2 linked regions of the Homo sapiens genome follow. The protein of the gene in region 2 purifies or fractionates together with the protein of the main gene of each other region. This does not show direct contact. Each region holds a gene or a part of one and is shown on either strand. Other genes may lie near its edges.

Region 1 (3,831 bases), on a different chromosome or scaffold from region 2:
TGACAATGTTTTGATCAACCATGAACAGCATATGCAACAGTGGTCCCATAAGATTATAAGGGAGCTGAAAAACTCCTATCACCCAGCAGCTGCCATATCATCACAGCACAATGCCGTACTCATGTGTTTGTGGTGATGCCGATATAAATAAATCTACCGTGCTGTCAGCTGTATAAATGCATAGCACATACAATTATGTATAGTACATAATACTTAATAAAAATAAATGGCCATGTCACTGGTTTATATATTTATTATACTATACTATTTATTACTATTCAAGTTATTTTAGAGTGTACTCCTTCTACTTATTTAAAAAAACATTAATTATCTGACAGCCCCAGGCAGGTCCTTCAGGGGGTATTCCAGAAGAAGGCATTGTTATCATAGGAGATGACAGCTCCATGCCTGTTATTGCCCTTGAAGACCTTCTAGTGGGACAAGATGTGGAGGTAGAAAACAGTGATATTGATGATCCCAACCTTGTGTAGGCATCAGCTAATATGTGTGTTTGTGTCTTCGTTTTTTAAAAGAAGTTTAAAAAGTTTTAAAAACATTTTTTAATAGGAAGAAAGGTTACAGACTAAGGATATAAAGAAAATAGTTTTCTACAGCTGAATACATGTTTATGTTTGCAGCTATTACAAAAAAGTAAAAAGTTAAAAAAATTTTAAATGTTTATGAAGTTAAAATGTTACAGTAAGCTAAGGCTAATTTATTATTGAAGAAATAACATTTTAAAAAATAAATGTAGTGTAGTCTAAGTGCAGTGTTGATAAAGTCTACAGCAGTGTATGGTAATATCTTAGGTCTTCAAATTCACTCACCACTCACTCACTGACCCACCCAGAGCAACTTCCAGTCCTACAGTTCCATTCATGATAAGTGTCCTATTCAAGTGTACAATTTTTACCTTTTCTACTGTATTTTTACTGTACCTTTTCTATCGTTTCTACTGTATTTTTACTCTACCTTTTCTGTGTTTAGATGTGCTTAGATACAAATACATGAATACTTACCACTGTCTTACGAGGGAGGGAGGGAAAAGAAGGGAAAGGGAGAGAGAGAGAGAGAGAGAGAGAGAGAGAGAGAAGAGAGCCATCCAGAATAAAACAAAGCAAATATAGCCAAAATGACATTTGGGGAATGTAAGTAAAGGGTATATAAAAAATTTCTGTATTATTCTTGCAACTTTTCTGTAAGACTGAAATTATTTCAAAATAAAAAGTTTAACTAAAGAACTTATTTATGTAACCAAACACTGCCTGTTCCCAAAAACCTATTGAAATAAAAATAAATAGCTTAAAAACAAAATAGAAATAAAAAACAAGATCATTTCAGCTAGTGATAAGTACTAAAAGGAAAATAAAAAATGGTAATACTACAAAAAATACCTGGGATGGGGTGTGGGGACTGTAGCATAGTCCTTAAATTGGGAAGTCAGAGAAATTAACATCTGAACTAAGACCTAAACTAAAAATAGAAGCCAGCCATCTGAAGATTTGGGCAAAGAATTCCAGGCAAAGATATTCCACATGCTCTAAGGTGAAAATGCACTCGTGACTTCAAGATACAGGTAAAGACTAAATGCATGTGAAAAATTGTTCAATGTTATTCATAATTTAAAAATTAACTAAATAGTTGAGTCACTTCATTTCTTAAGAGATGGCAAAGAACGGGTCCAGGGGGTACCAATATCCAGTGGGTACCCTGCTTTTCCAGATGTCAATTTCCCAGCATAAGAAATTTTAAAACATTGACACCAAGCAATTCTTGTTTGAAAGTTTATCTTAAAGAAATAATCAGAAAGGCAAAGATTTATGAAAAAGGTTGTAATATTATTTATTTATAGCATAACACTGGAAACAACATAAACTGCCATTACTATAGGAATGCTGGAAGAAAACTATGATACCTCTATATGGGAGAATTCTATGCAGCCATTGGGCTTATGACATAAAGTTAGATAAAAATGTATACAAACAAAAAATGGTATCTATATCCATCTCTTATAAAGAAAATATTATCTAAACCAACACTGGGACAAGGAAATGCCAGTTACCTTGCCTTAAGATGACAGGATTATGATTTTTTTAATATTATGGAATTATGATTTTATACTAACCTTGCTAAGTACATTTTTTGAAATTTTTCTAATTTTTTTTACAATGGGCATGTTTTTCATAGACATTTATAACAGAAATATCCAAATATTGCCAAATATCAAAAACTCATAAATTAGAAAAACTGTAGCACGGTATCCTTAATTTACCAATAACTATACATTTTCTATCCACATTCAACTCTAAATACTAATCCAACTCTAAATACTGCAATTTCAGGATTCTTTTCCAAGGAATTTAATGATCCCAATTTTCTGTACTGAACTTATGAATGGAGTTCAAGGGTGCTGGGACCTTTGATAAACAGGAGATGTTTCTGTGGGAGGGAGAAGGCTGCAGAGGAGGAAATTTCTTTGAATTGGAAAAAATATGTTATTTTCTGTAGCTTGTTCTTTTAGAATTCATCCTCAGGTTTTCTAAAAGCTTCCCTGTCCTGTTCTAGGTAGGTTGTTTTGATAATATTTTTGATATTCAGTGAAAGGATGGGTAAGAATTATATTCACAATTTCAAGTGCCAGCTATAAAATTCAATTACTGCTCTATCAATGATGAAATCCATTCATTCATACATTTATTGAGAAAGGGTCTCATTCTGTCACCCAGGCTGGAGTGCAGTGGTGTGATCATAGCTCACTGCAACTCCCAACTCAAGCGAGGCTCAAGTGATCCAAGCAGCTGGGACTACAGGTGCACACCACCACTCCCAGCTAATTCTACTGTTTCATTTTTTTGTAGATGCAGCATTTCGCTATGTTGCCCAGGTTGGCCTTGAACTCCTGGCCTCAAGAGATCTTCCTGCCTCAACCTCCCAAAGCACTGGGATTATAGGCATAAGCAACTATGCCTGGCTTCAAATACATTTAGAATTATCAACATTAGAAATTTGATATAAATATATCATCTCTTTGTTTCTCTTCATAAGTGAGACAATGTAAATGTGTATATAACTGAAAATACTTTTTAAAAGAATCATTAAGGATGACTTGACTGTTTGTTGCTTGAAGAAGTGTGGTAATGCAGAAAGAACGGACTTTGGAATAAAATAAATCTAGGCCTCATTACTTTCTAGCTAAGTGCCTTAATTAAACTTGTTAACACCTTTGAACTGCTGTCTTCTCTTTGAAAATGGGGATACCTCACCTGCTACTGTGAGAATTAGAGCTAATGTAAGTTAAGTGCTTAACATATGCTTGAATCATCGCAAGTACCCGAAACCCAAAACAAACGAAAGACAAAACTTGACTGAATTTCCCCCTTTCTTCCAGCCCTGATTCCATGCTTCATATTTAAGTTCTACATCAGGATTTCTCAACCTTGGCATTATTGACATTTTGGGTTGGATAATCTGATTCTTAGCAGCATCTCTGGCTTTGTCTACTAGATATCAGTGGCGCTCCACTAATTGTGAAAATAAAAAATGTTTGCACACATTGCTAAATGTCCCCTGGGCTTCAAAAGTGCCCCAAGTTGATGACCACTAATCTATATAGACGACTAAAATATACAAACGGCATTTAATAGGGCCAACCAAAACAAGTGATCTCATTTTTCCCAGACTACTGAAAGCCAGTGATGGGAAGGGGAGAGGTAAATATTCCATTTTATATAAGGAATCTGTTTATTTCATGAAGGATTATTATGAAGGGGTTTAAAGCCCATGTCTTTGACTACTAAAATAATGTATTTTGACCATTATCTTAGTGGTCAA
Region 2 (3,831 bases):
TGACTATAGCATTGGTCAAACCAAAGAATGTGCTACAAAACATAAAAATTGAGATAGGAATCTGGACATGACTTCTTCTCTGCCAGTAGAGTAGTACCTGTTAACCAAAACCTGAAAATAACAAATAATGTATTTATTTATCGAAAAAAAAGGATATTGAATTTCTTTATTATAAGCTGTTTCCACTATTTCAATATCCTGATATAACCTTTTAAAATCTTTCATAAAGTTTTTTTCTCTTGAACATACTATCAGCAATTTGTTTATTGATTTTTTTGTTCTACCTTTTATAACAAACAAATTATAAAATGTGTTATAGCACCACAGAGAACAGAGGAAACTGTCTCTGATTGTTTAACAATAGCTGTGGAATATGCTGTCCAATCAAAAGATTTGCATTGAGGGCCACATGCTGTGAGTGCAATTTTTATAAAGGGAGAGAATGAGAAGTTGAATATGCGCCACTCAGTGTTAGTAAATCAGCATTTTCCCTCTTTATTTTCACATCTCCACCACAGAACTTCCCTGTATTTACTTCACACAGGCTCATCTAAGCTAAGGGCATCTTCCTAATTAAGGTTAGAATAGCATGACAACAATAATGACATCTTACATCTATTACATCTACCTAGCCCTATATGGAGCACTGTTGCATCTTATCTGTATAATAAACTTAGGGGACTGTTTTCTGTATACTTCACCCTGATAGCTCTCTAAGCATGCCTAATTCTATTAATCCCTTGAGTCAATCCTATTCCAGATCTCTGGATTTCAACTCTAGCCACCCTTCTCTAATTTTCTCATCCTTATCCACTCCATACCACTTCTAGTTACTTGTGGTAGAGATGGTGTCACAGAGATGTCTGACCATGTGTCATCTCCCACTGTTAACCACAACCCTCATAGAGAAGGCATCCTTTCTTCTTTCATTTTAACAAGGTGTTTAATTCTGGTCTTATTTTACATTTCTGCCCTGAAGGAGCTGGAGAAAAAAAAATGGTTAATTCATAATCTCCTGAAATAGAGCTTCATGTGGAGCAGTCACTCTACATTGAAAGTTTATTTTCTCTGCGAAAGGACTTTTATTACAAGATGATAACAAGCACAAATATGGAGGTAGAGTTGCTCAGATGCAGAAGGGAAACCAGATCAGCTGAGAAAATGGCTTTATTCAGACCTTCCAGAGAAATGTGGAGAGCAGGTGAGGTGGGAGCAAAAGAAGTTGAAGAAAAGGAGAGGCTTCTATTTTTCAGTGACTTTCTCATGTTTAAAAATTTATAAATAAAATAGTTATTGGCAAGGCCAGGGTACCAGATTGTGGTCAGGGTAAGTGGGTTGCTAAAGAGAAGGCAAGGAACACAGAGCTGAGATCAATGAGCTATGAGGATAGGTATTGGTGGGACAAACACATGAATGTTGGAGTCATCCAAAACTAAGGTAAGAGCTGACATTAAGAGGAAGACTAACAGCAGAGTGAGTTTTCAGAAGAGGAATCTCCTAGAAGCTGCTAAATGACAGCAGCAAAGTTGGAAAGACACAGTTGAGCTAAATAGTATGGACCTCACATGAGAGGCGTGCATGAGGGTTAAAAAGGAAAGAAAGAAAGAAAGAAAACTTTGGCTTGAGAAAGTATCTAAAACAAAGCTAAATTAGTCCTAGCTTTGCTGCTGATGAATTTTATGATCTTGAGCAAGTCATTTTGTTTTATTTTTCTGGGCTTTTGTTTTCTCATTTGTAACAAGAAAGTTTCCTAAAGTCTATAGTAGATGCTACACCTTTATCTTAATCATGAATTTCATTTTAATCTTATATTACTAGGTTTAGGGTCGAAAATCTGTATCCAATTAACTGGCTTCTTGGACTTGCTTAATATTCATCAGCTGAGAAGAAGTCATCGCTTTGGTGGCAGTTTAAGAAAAACAACTGAAATGTATTTATGGGTACCATCTTCTTGTTCTTTGAAAAGCTGCTGTGAGGAATATAACATGGTAGTGATTATAATTCCCATTTTACAAATGAAACTGAGATGTGCATGCATACAGTATTTCCCATATGTTTTGTGCATTTTTCAAAACAGTAATTAAACATTTTCTTTTTAACCCATGAGCCTATAACTGTCTATATATTTACATGTCTCTTCCAACAAATATTAGTAGTAATAATAGTTATTATTATTGATTTTTATTACTTTATGTGTTACTAGCACCAAGAAAAATATGTGATGCATAATAGTCACGTGTTTATTTATAAATGTCTTTATTAGAAGGCAAATTAGTTACTAGGTAATCAAAGAATTTCTGCCTATCAAAATCCTGTGCTTCTACTACAAATTAAGGCTTTTACCTGGATATTTAGATAATTGCCTTGAATATTTAATTTGTTGGCTATGAAATAAATAAAATAGATAATCCTAAAATTGATAATTGGAGATTTCTGAGAAGCAATTCTCTTCATAAAAACATTAATGTTCTATTTGGTACTACAATGCCTTAAGTTTAAGAGAGTAAAGCTTTCTGGAATACAGAAGGTAATTAAAATTATAATTTCTCATGTAAGTTAAGATTTTAAATGTTGTAGACATTCATAGAGAACAATTAAACAGGAAAAAGTAGCAAATATTTCTATATAATTTTAGAATCTAATGATAACTCTCTGTTGCATAAGACAGTGACATTTTGACAAGGCTTTATGCCTTGTCTTGACTCTGGTTTTCAACTACAGCTTCTCTGAAAATTGACAACTTTCTCCTACTGACATGCTGTTTCCAACATATATCAGAACAGCATGTGCCATGAGTTTTTTTAGTGGTTGTAGGTGTTCACCAAACTATTCTTTTCTGGATGTGGTTCCCCAGCCCTCTGTGTTCTTAAAAAAGTGTATGCCGAAAACACGACTTTTGATAAGTCTCTTTGTGAACCCATCACTCCAGTCACTGCCCAGTTACTGAAAATCCACAAAGCAGTTATTGTATATTAGCTCCCTATATCATAAGGGCAAAAATTTTAATACTTGTAGAAGGATGGCTACTGCCAAGCCACACGGTAGAAACATAAAATGGAAGCTGCCATCACCACCTACCCTATGAAGGACAGCTTCTTATAAAATTTGCAGCAAGATAAACGTAGTCACAGGGTGATTGTGTGGCAAAGGAATCACAAAGAGTTCAAGTTTACTCAAAATAATGAAAGTGTCATTTTTTTCGTCTTTGGATTTCACTCTAATTCTATGCACATAATAGCTGTTTGCTAAATACTGATTAATGACTTTAAAAATGAGTTTAATAAATCCAGCCAAGATATAAAAGAAAAAATAAAGATAAAAATTTTTAAGTATGGCAATTTGTGGCCATTTTGAGTAATAATAAATGGCCTTATATTTTTTTAACAGGCTCCAAGATTACCACCATATTCCAGCGCAAGGTAAAAATTTATGTTCACGATAACTTGGTATATTCAAGGAAAATGTCCATTAAATTGAGCACTGTCTTTAAAAGAAGTTAGGGGACCTTACAGTAGTGTTTGCAAAGATCACCTCATAAAATGTTTTAAATGTAAATGTTGGTGTTTAAAGAGACCAACTCTCAAGTATAAAGTAGACAGCTAGAGAATCAAGGTTATGGATAAACAAGGTTTTACTTGGATATGAACACTTGTTAAAAAATTACAAATAAAGTATCTCGTAACAATATCTGGCTTTTCTTTCGTCCACTCACCAACTTTTGCCAATAATATATGTTCTCTTGGCCAAAGTTCACATGTCTAACTGTGCTTGGATGTATCTTTCTTGAAACCAAAACTCTTTGTCACATGCTTCAAGATTCTCCATTACTTG

The links.
Region 1: the proteins of GRM1 (region 2) and HOMER1 purify together in Homo sapiens (affinity purification with western blotting, with the first as the bait; one study listed by BioGRID). This does not show direct contact.

Annotation. Positions count from the first base shown.
Region 1 is NC_000005.10:79,391,897-79,395,727, forward strand, and holds part of HOMER1 (homer protein homolog 1), read right to left. Parts: intron 1-3,831. UniProt on the Homo sapiens protein: Postsynaptic density scaffolding protein. Binds and cross-links cytoplasmic regions of GRM1, GRM5, ITPR1, DNM3, RYR1, RYR2, SHANK1 and SHANK3.
Region 2 is NC_000006.12:146,035,260-146,039,090, reverse strand, and holds part of GRM1 (metabotropic glutamate receptor 1 isoform alpha precursor), read right to left. Parts: intron 1-3,831. UniProt on the Homo sapiens protein: G-protein coupled receptor for glutamate. Ligand binding causes a conformation change that triggers signaling via guanine nucleotide-binding proteins (G proteins) and modulates the activity of down-stream effectors.